Regions from separate parts of the Homo sapiens genome. Here region 2 is linked to region 1. Evidence: fine-mapped expression QTL. A gene starts in region 1. The other region holds a variant in brackets. All regions are shown on one strand. Distances are from middle to middle.

Region 1 (8,344 bases):
AGAAGATGTGACTAGAGAAGAACCTATTGCTTCAAGCAGTGATGATTTTGTTGAATTAAGGAAACAGACTAATAAGGATTTCAAAATACGAACCAGAGGATAAATGGTTTAAGATCAGAATACAGGGAAGCAGTAAATGTAGGGAAATAGCAAACTTGTTTCAAGAAAGTGCAAAATGTTTCCAATACTCTCTACCAGAGTAGCCTCCTCAGAGTAACAGTAATGGTAGTAATCACTTTAGTTACTCCATAACTTATTAACTTCTTTAGTTTCAACTCTGATAAATAGTTATGTCTTCATCAACTAATCTTAACCTTAACTCTGTGTCTATTCTAAACACTATTTTTATTCTCATTTTATTTCATTTTTTAAAACTTTGTATCTTGAAAACAAATCAAACTTATAGAAAAGTGCAAAGAATAGTAAAATAAACTGAAAATATTCTCATTTAAGATTCATCAGGTGTTAGCATTTTGCACATTTGTGTTTGCCTTCCATAGATGATACACAGATGATAGATAGGTAGATTGATTGATGTGTAGGTGTGCATACGGTATAACTTAAAATAGAAGCTAGATAGATAGATAGCTCTCTCTCTCTCTCCATATATATGTGTGTGCGTATACTATTAGAGCATATATATGTGTGTGTATATGTATTCTTTGATGATAATATATTTGTTTGAAAATCCTTCTAAACAAATATTTGTCTTAGAAAATCATATTATGGTGTGGTATTCTACGCTTTCATACTGAACATAATTTCTGAATGGAGATTTTCACACACATTCTGTATTTTCATTTCATAATAAAAACCAAAACAACTAGCAGTGTGAATTATAGGGTTCCCTTTATATGTTAGTGGATATCTTAATAACCTTTAATAATATAACAAATTTAATTATAATGTTTAAATATATATAAAAAATACCTTTATGACCACGTTGTTTAAAATTCCACACTAAGACAACAATCTCAATAGAGAAAACAGGCAAAAGCTATGAACAGAAAATTTACAGAAGAGGGAACCCTGAAAACCATCAACAATGAAAAGATGTTCAATTTGTCAGTAATTAGAGAAACACACATTCAAACAATAATGGGCCATTACTCTGCACCTATTATATTAGCAAAATTTTAAAACTAGATAATGCCAAGTGTCCTTGTCATAGCTGATTGGACCAAGGCACAGGGCAGCCCATGTATAAAGCTGCTGGCCACATAGGTGGTATCTCACTTGACTCAGAAAGATGGGCTGGAAAAATCAGATTTGTCTCTTGGAAATCTGTATCTAGCACATTTTAAAACAAACACGTTTGGAAGGAGAATAAACGTCAGGGACCTGGGCTAGGGCAGGGCCTGAGGTCAGAGCAATGCCAATGGGCCTCAGTGCACCAAGTTACAAGGGAGGGGCTTCGAGCAGGCGAAGGAGCCAAGAGCCTTGGAAGAACAGACTGGCAGCAGAGTGATGTGTGAAGGCCAGTAGAGATGCCGGGAGACGTGCCACGGGGCAAAGAGGGGAAAGGGATTCATCTCAGTTCCTGCCAGCTTCCCAGTTCCGGTTCAGTGCAAACTGGGGGACTTCCAGTTCTCTTTGGAGGAGCAGGAATTGGAGGTATAGGGGAGGAGGAGATACAAGAAGAAGGATGAAGGCCTTTGAAATTCCAAAGGAAAATGACTTCAGATATTTGTTTGTTTGTTTGTTTGTTTGTTTTGCTACTAAAAACAGAGACAGAGTCTCCCTCTGTTGCCAAGCTGGAATGCAGTCATGTGATCACAGCTCACTGCAGCCTCGACCTCCCAGGCTCAAACATTCCTCCTTCCTCAGCCTCCCGAGTAGCTGGGACCACAGGCGTGCACCACCATGCCTGGCTAATTGTTTGTTTGTTTGATTTTTTTTTTTTTTGTAGAGATGCAGTCTGTTGCCTAGACTGGTCTCAAATCCTGGGCTCAAGTGATCCACCTGCCTCAGCCTCCCAAAGTGCTGGGAATAAAGGTGTGAGCCACGGCCAGAGATTCTTATGCCTTGCCAACCAATCAATCAAGTGTGAGGGTATAAAGACATTTTCAGAGATACAATGAAAAGAAAAGCCACCCTAAAACATCAAGTGCACCTAGAGTTTTCTTGATATCCTTTTGTAACATGCCAGCATTTTGTCAAAATCACTGAAGTTCTTCTGAAGTGATGAGTCAACAAATGTGTGATGTTGAAAAGTAAATTAAAACACAGATTTCACACCAGCCAGTCATCAGTCCCTATTCATACAGTGTCGTAGGTCCTCATTTAGAGGCATTGAGAAATTAGAATATTCCAAGCATGGAGGGCAAAGAAGACATGGACCAGATTGGCTTCCAGAGAGTTGATAGAACAGTCTGGGAGTCAGACATAAAAGGAGAACTGCTAAGAAGTCCCAGGGCGTGACAAGGCCTGTAATAGCAGAGGTGGACCCCGGTACAGGGGAGTCGCAGAAGAGGTCGCTCAGACCCCACCTGGGAGAGTCATGAGTGAGGTGGTCCATTTGGGCCAGGTGTTGGAAGATAAAAGAGGAGGCAGATTGGGATGGAGGTTAAAGGTGCTGGGGCGAGGAGCAGTCAGATTGAGAAGGTTTTTAATAGTAGCAGCATCTGCAGGGCAAGGAAATGGTGTGTAATGCAGGATTCTGAAACGTGGGCAGTGAATAGTAGAATGGGAGGCTGAGGGCGAAGGCAGGGGCACGCTCAGCAACAGCAAATGCAAAATAACTTCAGGGAAGGGAACTTCAGTGAGAAAAGGTAGGCTGGCTGGAGGCGATCTGAAGCGGTGAGGACTCTCCCAAGCAGGAAAGCGCCACCCACTTGTCCTCCATGGATACGCTGACCCTGGGTGGCTCAGACCTACCTAATGTGAATCCGGTTGGGGAGGAAGGGGAGCGGGCATCCCCAAATCTACATCCACAGGATTCCTATGCAGTCAAAATTTGGGAATTAATACTGAAGGCAGGAGTGTTAACATGGGTAGGGAAACGCAATACTGACGGAATCCTAAATCAATGACTACTTAGCAAATAGAACATCTATATTTACAAGTCCAAAGTGTTAACATAACTATTTGAAACAGATTGCTAGAAACAAAAATAAATGGGACAGTGCCTTGGAAATATATCAGATAGAATATGACTGGTGATAGAGTCCTGAAAAAGAAGAAAAGCCTGGGGGTTCTGCAGAAGATTTACGTTGTTCATGGCATTAATCATGGTAGATTCCCAGAGGAGGTGAAATGTTATGGACGGGTGGAATGTGATCCATTTTACTGAGGAAGTAAAACTATTCTTGCCTTGAAGGTAATGTTTAAAGTCAAAGAATTTTTAATTAGGTGCGGATTTTTTAAAAAGAATTTTTAATTTACAAATAAGATTGAGTTAAAGAATCATTTTCTGCCGTAGAAGCAATAGGATTTTTTAAAAATTCTATTTTAAATTGCATAAAAAGCATCTTAAAGTAATCAGATAAGTTGAGCCATAAGTAAATGGATATTTAAAGATCTTATTAAAATAGTCTACCTGATTTAGTTATTATTCTGACCCTATATAGCAATTCACAGGGTTTTGTTTCAATTAAGTGGCTCTAAGATTATCATTTAAAAACAAAAAGTGTAACTCTCCCGTTTGCAGCTCTCTGCACTCATTCTATGACTGGAAGGTGGGGCTTGTTTTGACAATGCTTCCAGTTAGGGTCTCTTAAGTGATTTGCATGTTATTAACCTGGATAGCCACTAATAGGGCTTCACTTCCTCGATTTCATACATAGCCCCGGCTCATATAAAAAAGAGTTCTTCAGGAGAGCAGAAAAATCGGAGCACTTGCACTATCGGTGAAATGTGTAGAAAGATAACAGAAGCTACCCTCCTCAAAAAAATGATGAGTTTGATGAAAAGAAATTAACAAGCTGTGTGAGTGTGCTGCACATGATCAGCCATGCTTGCTAAGTCTGTCTGTTGGTTGTTGCTATGGCTACGAAAAGCCAGTGGAACCCAATGAGCTGTCTGCAGCAGAGCTGAGAGGACCAGCCATTTTACTTATGGAAAACAGTGTGGCATATTCTGCTGAGCTTCGCCCTGGAAGAAGCCTCTTTTATACATCTCTTCAGGGAAGAGAGAAGCAATGGGCATGTTAGTATACAATGATCACAGCCACGCAGGCCTGCAAGCTGCCTTTTGGACAGGCTGTTGACTGCCGTTCCAATTAGCTGATTGGAGAATGTGGAATGCAGAGTGATAATGCTGCATATCTGCTATCAGGCAGCAGCAAAGGTTTTTGTCTTGGGAAGGCAAGCTTTCCCTGCAATATTATCTCAGCAGCTCCCTAGCTGCTTACCCTGAAAACGAGGGATCCAAACGGAGGGTGTTGCACTCTGCTAACGCTGGTCCTGTGCGTGGCTGTGGCATATGAGCGGCAGGTCTGAAAAAGCAGGTGTGTGCTGGGACGGGCACTGGACTGGAACGCAGGCGGACGCTCTCGGGTTTACCTGCTTCCTGTTAACAGATTGTGGGCTCCCAGGGCATATGTCTGCACGCTGAGGCCGAGGCGGAGAAGGGGCTTCCTGAGCGTCCCAGTACACTGACAGAGGTAAGCTTTTTTGACCTTTTTGAAAGCACAGCATAAAAATAACTGGGGCAAAACTTAGCCTGAAAGATTTACGTTGATTGTGTGATTTGGATTTACCAAACAAACATACACAGACACATACACACACGCATACACACACATTTCTAGAAAATAGTATCAGAGACATAGAGTTGTTTCAGTGAATTTTGGTTCTAGCAATTGGAAGATAAAAAACATGACCGATATGCTTTGGGGTTTTAAAACCAATATTTACTGTTTGAGCAGACTACGATGGCTTGTTCTGAACCGTCCTCACAGCCAACAACATTTCTCGCTTGTGAACAATGGATTCTTTCGTGACCTGCACTTTGACTTGTATTCAGAGAACTACATGAAAAAGAACTACATGAGAAGCATTTCTTTTTAAGCCTCGTAAATGATTTATTTAACTCTTAACACAGCTATGTACACACTTAAATTGAAGAATTCTGTTCTCTATGTGGGTCATAATAGCCAGTGGATTTTGTACTTGCTTACCCTGGACTGAGTGTCTTGGTGTCCTGTTTGATTTAGTTGGGGTAGTTGTAAAGCAAACAGTGTAGGTATTGGAAGCCGTTCACACCTCCTTTCCGAGTATCTGCATGCCTTGCTGGCCCAGAGCACAAGACCCCCATTGTGCTCCCCCGGCTCAGAATCCAAGGAAAGAAAGGAAGCGAAGCCTCTGCATTGAGTTCTAGGACAGCTGAGGTATGTGGCAGTAAAACTTCTTTTCTTGCACAATTTTTCTCACAAGCAGATAGGTTTCAGAGATAAAGAGTGAAACCAAAAACACCGCACACCTCATCCAAATCTGCGCTCATACTTGCAGCAAATGTTTGCTGTCAGTTGCTTCATAATAACAGCACAGACCCCGAATTGCAGGAGGAATTGCCTGGTAGTGAGTATTTCCTTGATTTATAGTCTCTTAGGAACAAAGCTGTTACTGTGGATTGAAACTGGTCAGTCAAATCAAAATCCCTGGTAAGAAAATGACGGAGTAAGGATTAGATTCTGGTTCAGCAACATTTCAGCTTTACTCAAGTCAGTTCTTTGGTTGTTTTGTTACCAAAAATGTCAGATCACTTATAATACTATTGAAAATATTTAATAAAAATGTTTGGTCAAAAACTTTGAACAAAACCCCTATCTACAAAAGATGGAATCTACTGTGAAATTTAAAATAAGTAGTAACTGAGATCTACTTCTAAGAAGTATATTTTTATTTGCTACCTTTTTCCTCCAAAATCTGGATGACATGAGTCTCTTCAGAATTTTAAGTATAATTTTCACTGATAGATATGGGCAGGAACCGCCTGTTTCAGAGATGTAGCAATGTTCATAAGCCCTAAGATAAGAGAATGCTAAAGCAGTAGGAGAATAGTTTTCCAAACTTTTGTTCTAAATGTCAAAATAGTCAAAATATAAAGATAGAGACTAAGAATCTCAGTGGAGCCAAACATGTGCAAACGTTTGGTGATAAGTGTACGCCTATGCGGGTTGTAGGGGATAAAATGGTGAGGTGACGGCCTTGTACTTCATTATGTTTAACATTCAAAGGAAAGCTAAATGAACAGACTTAGTTCTGAGTCCAATTCTATGAGCAAAAATATCAGCTAAGTAAGGGATTCTATATGAGCTGAATGAAAGGTAGAGAAAATCTCTCTCCAATTTAATTTCCTTCAAAGCTTTACACTGCCAAAGGATTTCTTAGAATTGACACAGTGCAAAGACCTGCAGCAAGCACCTGATTTCCTATTAATTTTTCTTGGGGGAGCTTTTAGAAGAATGAGGTGTAGAAATATCCAGGGCACACCCGACTGCTGTGCCTGTTGCATTGATAGTGGCACCAAGTGAGACAAGACCCTTAGCCCACGGGAGGAATGGCACACACTTTATACCTGTGCAAGTTCTTTCCTATTTTAGTAACCTTTTAAGATGACATGCTATACACAGATGACCATTTTAAGTTCAATTCTGTACAGCGCATCTCCATAGTTAATAATTCAACAATTTTGAGAACCAGGTTCAGAGACATAATCTCTATCCTTCAAGACTTTGCACTTTCGCTTATGGCTATTTTTAGACCCTTATTTTCTGCCACTTTCCAACTCTTCTGCTGGCAATATCAAATATTTTGGAATTTCCAAAACATACTATATCAGATTTTTTTTTTTTTTTTTTTTTTTTTTTGCAAATGCAGTGCCCCCTGAAGAGTCATTTCCTTTAAATCTCCCCTGCAAGGACAGCTGCTTTCATACGCCCTTCAAGTCCAGCTAGACATCCCCCCTCACTGTCCCCCACCCTGCTTGGCTACATCTGAATCTTACTTCTGACTTTCTGTCTGCTGAACCATATTGCATTTGTCCCTGTTCACAGCCTTCCAGAGCTTTGCTGGCCTCTGATTCTAAAGTACTTTGTCCAGTGTCCAGAATTTTGCATTCAGACATTGTACTGGTAACCTCAGACTTCAATATTTTCCTATTAGTTACTGTAAATATAGACTTGACCTAGAAATAGAAGTCCTAATACTGCCTTTTATCAAGGAAACTTAAAACATTTGAAAAACAACAATGAGGCTTTCATTTTTCTGATTTGAAAATATGGCTTCAGGATCCCAATTTCATAAAAGCTACAACTGTCCTATAATAAATCCAAATTTCCCGAGGGAAAATTTTACAATGTATGTTTTAAACAAAACAACTTGAATGTTTTAGTATATAAATAATACTATTTTTCTATCCATGGCTATTATAAAATGTATAGAAAATATCCCTATTACAAATTTGTTATGGAATCAGACTGTTTAAAACTAATGTTGAGTTGATGATGATTAGTAGCCGATTATAATGTAAGACACTTATGAAGTTGTTTTTCTTGCTGAAACCAGAAGAAAGTAAAGGTCGTGAACTGGAAAGAGATTAAATAATTGAAATGAAGTCTACAATGGCAGCATTTCTTTTAATGTTCCTAAGTAAACCTAAAAGGTGACTGGAAATCACTAGTTACGTTACACTAGTTATGTTACCCTACAACTTGAGTACCTGGGTAAGGGAGAGAATATTCTCTTAGAATCACTCTTGATATAGATATAGGTTTGTTTACAGAGACTTCCTACCCTCTGTTCTATATTAGATAACATTATTAGTATTTTTTAAATAAGCCTGATTTCAGTAGCCTTTTTATGAAAAAACTGCCACAATCAAAAATAAGAATGTACCCATAGTTTTATTAAGAAGTTATAAATACATAATTCCTTGTCTTTAAGATATCTGTGTTGAAAGCAAAAGTTCTAATTAATACTGTATGAATTTTTGTATATAAAGTAGAATTGATGAGGAAGTTTAAAATATCCTGATATTTGGGATTAGAAAGTAAAATATTTAGGAAATTATTTAAATTCATATTTCTTGACATTATTGCATTCATTCCAGCATTGAGTTTTCTAATAAAAGTAAGATAAATAGCAATTCTTAATTATCATGCTGTCCTTTAAAGCTTATTTTGGCTATCTTCCAGCTGATTTTAATGTACAGCATGCTATAATTAAATAATAGCTAAAGTTGGAATTGGTTCTATTCATCTTAAAGACTAATCATGTTTAATTATTTTAAATTGCATATAGTAATTAGATTTCAGAAACCATGATTTTGTAATATGCCTGTACTGTTTCTAACATTTTCTATTTTAAGTCATTTATAATATTTTTAAAGGTCTCAGTTATGT
Region 2 (8,344 bases), 110 kb after region 1:
CCACAAACTCGTGGCCTTTGAGACAACTGGGTGGGGAACACAACAGCATGTGTACGTGTGCCTGTGCATGGGCACATGTGTTTGTGTATGTGCACATGTGCATGCACACACTGCTTTTTCTCTCACGTTTATCTGCCATGCTGCCCCTACCTGTGTGACACTGGAACATCATCATCCATTTCGGATCCATTGCTGTTATGGGAAAGTGAAGCAACAGTATAACTCCTGCACCGCATGAGCTGGTCAGAGACTCCCATCTGCCCACTCTGTGTTAACCTGTGCCTAACCTATATCTGACCTGTGCAAAATCAAAAGGACTAGAAATGCTTATCTTTCATGCCCAAGTCTCTTGGGCAAATGAACTGTGGGACTGAGATAGAAGCATGCTGCCCTTCCCAGAGCTGAATGTTTCTTGTCTTATTTCTCAAAACATGGAGAGTTGAGGGAGAGGGAACATCCAGGGTAATTTGTGGAGTAGAATGGGCTCTCAAACTTTTTGATTAATGAATTGAATAATGAATGAATGGGCCAGGTGCGGTGGCTCACGCCTGTAATCCCAGCACTTTGGGAGGCCGAGGGGGGTGGATCACCTGAGGTCAGGAACTCGAGACTAGCCTAGCCAACATGGTGAAACCCCATCTCTACTAAAAGTGCAAAAATTAGCCAGGTGTGATGGTGCATGCCTGCGATCCCAGCTGCTCAGGAGGCTGAGGCAGGAGAAGAGCTTGAACCTGGGAGGCAGAGGTTGCAGTGAGCCGAGATCACGCCACTGCACTCCAGCCTGGGCGACAGAGTGAGACTCTGTTTCAAAAAAATAAATAAATAAAATTGTAAAAAATAATGAATGAATGATAGCATTCTCTGAGGTGAGGAATACTGGAAAAATGGGGTGAGGTTTGGGGAGAAGCGAATATCCTGACTCCAACATGAAATGGGAAATAAATATGAATTATGTCTGAATCGTAACTTAGACATACCAATTTAGAAATTGAGGTAATTCAGTGAGAGTCTAGGCTGTCTTTACTTTTGATAATATTAAAAGCTAGATTCTTAAGCAAAGTGCTAGCATACTTATACTACACAAAATAAACCTTTTTAGAAGCATTCATTCCATATGAATTGATGTTAGAAGTACAAATCATTCTTATGTATTCATTAAACTAGGACCCTGGAGGATTTATTTTAGGTGTTATTGCCTTGACCTAGAGTTAATCTGTATTTTTGAAGGAAAATACGTTGCCTTTTTTCACAAGCACTTTATAACTCACTTCTCCCTAATTCAGATTGCTTTTCTTAATCATTTGAAGTTAATGATACAATTATCACATAGTAGCCTTACAAATAGCCATAATATTAAATCATAATTTATGTAAAGTAAACATCCAAATTCCAAAACATCTGAACATGGGAACAGGCTGATTGAAGTTTTTGTGGGTCATAGGACCTTGGCAATTGTTTGTGAGCCTGATGCCGACATTTCTCAACAGTAATCAAAGCACAGAACAACAACCATCCACATGAAAAATAACTCAAATTGTCATTGTACTTCCCATGCTATTGTCATTTAGCAAGTTATGGCATGACTGATTCAGCCAGTAAGAAAAATGTGATGAGAATATTGGCTAGGAGTACAGTCTGCTTAGATCTTTTAGTTTTTTTTCCTTCAAAAGCCAATAGACTTTTACTCTTTAAAATAGGAGCTATGCAAAAACGTAATATTTGGAATGCCAAGCTGCCTCCATGATTGAGATACCTGTTTTGAAGTTCTCCTCTACTGTAAATTCTAACAGAATAAAAAAAGAATCAATGATTCTTGTTACCTCCAATGTACCTACCACACTACTCATGAAAAAAGCTTTAAAAATTAATGAAAATTGATGGACTGAAGTTCTGTCTGTTTCTTCTGGTGCAGATTTATAAAATGGATTCTATTTTAGGAACGATCAAATTCTAAAATTGAGAAGCTCAAGGGTAGGGCACTGGAGATAATATAGAAAGACATGTAATATATAAACAATTCTCTAGATCTTATATCTGGAGTTAAGTAAAGCAGACAACAAAGAGGGAGACAGCTTGGTTGTCAGGATGGTGGCTTGGACATGTGTTAATATGTACCCCATCTCATCATGATGCTATCAGAAGCACGGGTCTTTAACCATCTCCTTTTTCTGAATTTTAATATGTGAATGAGTCATTAAATATTGGCTTCCAGTTAGTTTCTGCTTGATATGTACAATCATGACAGTAGCATAGTGGTTTGCACATTAAAGGTCAACAAATGTTTGTTGGTTGAATATACCTTTCCTAGATTTAGCAAAATTTCAAACCATAAAAGTCCCTTATGTGCTTTTATATTTTAAATCAAGTCTTTCATGTTATAAACTTTAAAACTCAGGCTCATCGAAGTGAAGTGATTTGCCCAAGCATACCTTCCCACACAAGGCTTAACACCGACTCCCACTTTAGTACAATAAAAAAAAAAAAAGTCATGTAACATTAAGAGCACATACCTGGAAGTCCCCTAAAACATAGGTTGTTGAACTCTGACTCTGCCACTTCCTCGCTATTGATGTGTGCTATGGTCTGGATATTTGATTCCTCCAAATCTCATGTTGAAATTCGATCCCCAATTGGAGATGGGGCTTAATGGGAGGTGTTTGAGTCTTGGGACCAGATACTTCATGAATAGATTAGTGTCCTCCCTGGCAGAGGGAGAGTGAGTGAGTTCTTGCTCTATTCATTCCTGGGGGAGCTCCCTTGAGAGCTGATTGTTGAAAAGAGCCTGGCACCTTCCTGCTCTCTCTTGCTTCTGCTCTCGCCATGGGATCTCTGCACGCCGGCTCCCTTTAACCTTCTCCCCTCCACCAGGAGTGGAAGCATCATGAGGCCTCTCTAAAACCCAAGCAAATGTCAGTGCCATGCGTCCCGTGCAGGCTGCAGAACCGAGAGCCAAATAACCCTCTTTTCTGTATAGATTACCCAGCCTCAGGTATTCCTTTATAGCAACACATTGACTTAGACAAGGTATGTAGATATATACTTCTAAAGTGGCTTCTCCCACAAAAAAGAAATTTGCGGCCCAGCACAGTGGCTCACACCTGTAATCCTAGCACTTTGGGAGGCCGAGGTGGGTGGATCAGGAGGTCAGGAGATCTAGACCATCCTGGCCAACATGGTGAAACCCCGTCTCTACTAAAATACAAAAAATTAGCTGGGCGTGCTGGCACGTGCCTGTAGTCCCAGCTACTCAGGAGGCTGAGGCAGGGGAATCACTTGAACCTGGGAGACAGAGGTTGCAGTGAGCTGAGATCACGCCACTTGCACTCCAGCCTGGCAACAGAGCAAGACTCCGTCTAAAAAAAAAAAAAAGAAAGAAATTTGCTAACTTTTTGGCCCATCCATTATTGTTTGCCCTCTCCCAATATGAGTGACATTTTCTTACCCTCTGCTCTGTGTTAGGAATGGCAGACAGCCAACATCCCAATAATAATAGTTCATGTTAACATTTTCTATGTACTATAGAAAAGCGATCACTCCACTCAAACATAATTAACTAGAATCAATGTAAATGCATGTGGTCCCAGCGTGGGTTCTGGATTTCCTTTACCAAATGCTGCAGCACAGATGACAAAGTGCTTTTACGCTCCATTATAAAAGAAGAAATGGAAATGAAGTCAGTAGGTATCAGATCAGAAGTCAGTGGGTATCTCTGTCCATGAAGATGTCCACACAGACATTCTCTACCTGTGGACCTGAAGGAGAACAGGCTGAGTCCCAGGGTAGAGTCGATGCGAACAAGAGGCCCAGGTTGGATCTGTAAGGTGATCCATGGCCCTGAGCATCATGGCAGACTACCCTGGAGCTAAAACCAGGCTGCCCTGAAAGAGTTCGTGTAGTTGGGAAGTCAAAAGGAAATTTTTCTGCTTTTCCAAGAGTGGCAAAAGTCCAAGATAAAAGAAAGAGTGTTGAGAGTTTATTTCTGTAGATAAAAGGGGGAGAAATGGCTAATAAAGATCAGACTGAGTAGGATTTCACTACATATGTTAAAATATGCCAACTAACAATCTCAAAAAGTGTTCTGATCATTTCTACCTTTAGCCAGTACGTCAAATAAGTTAGAGTATTATGAAACAACAAAAACTTTGTTCAAATAAGCTTCACTGTTCTCCACTGT[G/A]TAACTGTGGAATATAAATTTGTATTTGTATGTTGTTTTTCTTGCCTATTTTTGGTGGATTGAGTGAAAGTTTTAGCTTTAAATAGTGGCAGAGCATGAAGGACTATATTAGGTATGAAAAATGAAGAATGCTGGGAACATATGTGGGGGGTAAGAACTAGAAGTGAGGTCATCTGAGTTGGCATTTTGCTGAACAAAAGGGCAATAGACACCACATCCCATTTTGTTGTACAGTTCTGAAGTCTTAAACCCCTTATTTCTAGGATGGACTTGTTTTCATTCTTTCTGATGACAATTGTGAACCAGATGGTTAAAAACCCAGCACTGAGAAACAGTCTTATTTAGATATTATGTTTCTTAAATTCAGGTACATCTTGAGGGAATATTGAAGCTTCTAGCTGCAACTGTTATTTATACATCTTCTTGTCAATTTAAAGCATAAATTTGGTATATTTAAGAGCATTAACCCTAAGGGCCACTGGGATGAGTTCCACGAGATGAAAGAAAAAAATAAACCTCAAGTACATGTCAGTAACTTTTCCTGTTGCTGCTGGTAGTCACCTGGAAACTCACCATAGTGTCTCTACCATATCGTTCTGTGACCCTCCCCCCACCCAGCACAGCCTCCAAAGCCTGCCTAGAGACTCAAGTTCATGCCAGCCTGACTCACGCACAGACTCATGTGGACACTTTAAAAGTGAGGCAGCTGGAGCCCAATCTTCCTTGATTCATGAAACCACTGTTCATTTAGACATTGATTTAATTATATTTTTCAACAATTGCATTAAAGCCCTTAGACTTATTCCATATAAATTTTTGAAAAGCCAGTCTCTTCAACCTAATCATGAAATTTAGTTTAGCCAAATTTAATTCAGCCTGTCAAGATCATCTTTCTACTTATTACCTATTCCCCTCTCGTGTGTATGCCTTCTGCAGAATCAATAAACACACCACTTTGTTTTTCCCTAAAATAAAAATGTTGCAGACACAGTCGGAACAGGGTACTCCTCAAATTGAGTACCTTTTATTCACCTATGATTCTGCTTAACACTTGTACATTTAGTACATAGAGAAATGTAAAGAATTTTTTCAAATGTCTGAATAACAATGGAGCAGCAGTATATAAATATTAATAATACATTTCTGAATAATACATTTCCATTAAAATGGAAGATATCTGTCTTTATTGTCTACTTTTATTAGATCCCAAAGAATAATGTAATAAACTATCCACTGTTCAACACAAATATCAAAAGTTTCCAACTTTTAATGCATTCAAAATTTCTTCAGATGATATTTTTCCTCCATTGGCTTATTATTTTCTCGTTCAAATTTTCTAAAATGAATCAAACTGCCTTAAGATGTACAATTTAAGATACATTCTGGCCAGGCATGGAGGCTCACACCCATAATCCCAGCACTTTGGGAGACCAAGGCGGGCAGATTACCTGAGGTCAAGAGTTCGAGACCAGTGTGGCCAACATGGTGAAACCCCATTTCTACTAAAAATACTACAATTAGCCTGGCATGATGGCACACACCGGTAACCCCAGCTACTCTGCAGGATGAGGCAGGAGAATTGCTCGAACCTGGGAGGTGGAGGCTGCGGTGAGCCGAGATTGCACCACTGCACTCCACCCTGGCCAACAGAGCGAGACTCTGTCTCAAAAAAAAAAAAAAAAAAAAGGTACATTTCATTCTGGATAAACTTTGTAAGTAATGTATTACTTAAATTTTAAGACTATAAGATCAAATTAGAGCAAATTTTCCCCTGCCCCAAAATTTAAATTCCACATAGCAAGTGGGATTTCACCATTGCATATCTGAGACACATATAAACATGAATTTGTAATAATTCTGACAGTATATTCTGTCAAAAATTCTGACAAACCTTGACATTGCTAAAGTATATAAATGTTATTTCAGGTGCTCAGGAAACAGGTGTATTCAATCAGAAGAAAAGTGTGGCTTTTTAAGAACAGTGAATTAACAATAAGCAGGCTTATTTCACTGTAATACTTTCACCACGTAACATTACCATGAAAATAATTTAAAATAGATATACTTACTAACTGAAAATTCTAAGGATTTCAGAAAAAAAAAATCAATGGCTATTGGTCTAGGCTTAGACCAAGGAGGTCTAATATGCTTTGGGTTTAGTAGACCTGATTAACACTTTCCATTTGGACTTGTGCTGTGATTGGGCAAAAGGAATCCTTGTCATAATCAACCACTGTTTTCCTATTAGTCTTAGAGGAAGAAACATATGGTTCTATGTTAACAGTTCTTATTTTATTTATCAAACAGTTTTGCCTTCTACCACACCGTCTTCTCATATTTTGTTCTTTTCCCTAACCCCTGCCTCATATGATTCAGTACTTAATTAAGCAGGGTACTGTAATATTTTAAAGGGAAAGAGCTTGATTTCCTATGTTGTTTTTCTGTTTTGTGTTTTGTTTTGTTTTGTTTCATTTTTTTGAGATGGAGTCTTGCTCTGTCACCCAGGCTGGAGTGCAATGGTGCGATCTCGGCTCACTGCAACCTTCGACTCACTGCAACCTCCACCTCCCAGCTTCAAGCCATTCTCCTGCCTCAGCCTCCCACGTAGCTGGGACTACAGGCATGTGCCACCATGCCCGGCTAATTTTTGAATTTTAGTAGAGGCAGGGGTTTCGTCATGTTGGCCAGGCTGGTCTCGAACTCCTGACCTCAAGTGACCCTCCTGCCTCGGCCTCCCAAAGTGCTGGGATTACAGGCGTGAGCCACTGCGCCTGGCCAAGATCTTGATTTCAAATGACGTTTTAAGATTCCTTAAAGGAGGATGCCTATTATTTGCTAGGAGTCAGGAGAGATGAACTACTTTTGAGTATCTGCTTGGGGCATCCATTTATCTTATCCTCAAATGTCTAACCCTAAAAATGAGTTGGTTGATCTCAATCCCTACCAGAGCCTTTGATGCTTGCTTCTACTTAAAGTCTAAGTATGAGACATGCAAAACTAGACTAGATTACATAATTCTTTTGATATCAGATGATTTTTATATTTCAATATATAAAAATTAAAACGGAAGATTTTAAAATTAAAAGCAGTGAGAAACTTAGCAAAGCATAAAATTTTAAAAAATGGTTCTTTAAAAAGATCAAGGCTTTTCTCCTCAAAATAGAAATGTGTGCTTCTCAGTACAAGGTGGGAAATCAGAGGCACTTTCCCTTATTGAATTAAGCAGGAGTAGGCTGCCATCAGGATGTTATCACTCTGCAATTTGTCACACAATTTGTTATGTGACATTTTATAGACATCTCTTTCCATTCAGCCATCGCTTTCGGCTATCAGCTGTCAAAGGGAAAGAGAATGATTTTTTTAAAAAAGCTAATCGTCAAAACCTTTATAGTGTCACTTTCCCTTAGATCCAGTAGCATTGTCTATAGCTGGGCTAGAAGGCAAGGGTTTGATTCAACTATTTTCTTAGGTTTTCTCTTGTTCATGGCAATGTGTGGGGGGGAAAATCTTAGCTAAATAAAGGATCTTTTTAAGGAAGAAAGAAAGCTGCCTGGAAAGTAGAATTCCTTTTCAATTCCAACATGTTGCTAAGCTGGGTGTGGGACAATTGGGAGACGGGAAAATCCATAGAAATCAGTCTAATAAACCATATGGCTTGCTTCAATCTAAAGCAATACAATAATGCCCCATGTATTTTCAGGAAAGTCTAGATTATCTTCTTAAGACTCAATCAAAGGTAAAGATCTGCTTCAAAATATTTGAAATATTAGTGAATGGGAATAATGCCAGTTTGCCAGATTGGGGATGCTTTGCTGTCTAGCGGGGGAGTCGATGATAATGACATTGGTATAAATTGTTCGGATGCATAGAAATGGGCAGAACTGGGATTTGAGTCAAGCTTTGCCTATTTCTTGACCCATTCTTCCAACGCTATTCAGTTTGCCTATACATGTGTTATAGGGATATTCTAATTAATTCCTCACATGTCTCTTTGATAAGGTGCCTGACTTATGAGATCCTCAGTCAGAATCTGAATTATTTTCATTAGAAATTTTTTTGGCTTTTGATTTGCACATTATAAGCCAATGGAATTCTCCTAATACTGTACTATCAAGTTGAACAAATGACTTAGTCTTAGAAAAAAGATGCACTTGAAAATACTTAGATGTT

What was found.
Region 2: its variant is fine-mapped to the expression of SORBS2 in aorta (GTEx, PIP 0.99).

What each region holds. Positions count from the first base shown.
Region 1 is chr4:185,807,923-185,816,266 of GRCh38, reverse strand. It overlaps SORBS2 (sorbin and SH3 domain containing 2), which reads left to right and starts at 4,073. Exons shown (of 27, transcript NM_001395207.1): 1 at 4,073-4,603.
Region 2 is chr4:185,696,801-185,705,144 of GRCh38, reverse strand. The region is part of intron 3 of SORBS2 (sorbin and SH3 domain containing 2); the gene reads left to right. Among named protein-coding and RNA genes, the nearest start is that of SORBS2, 110 kb to the left of the region's middle. The variant G/A (reference allele first, on the strand shown) is at 4,175.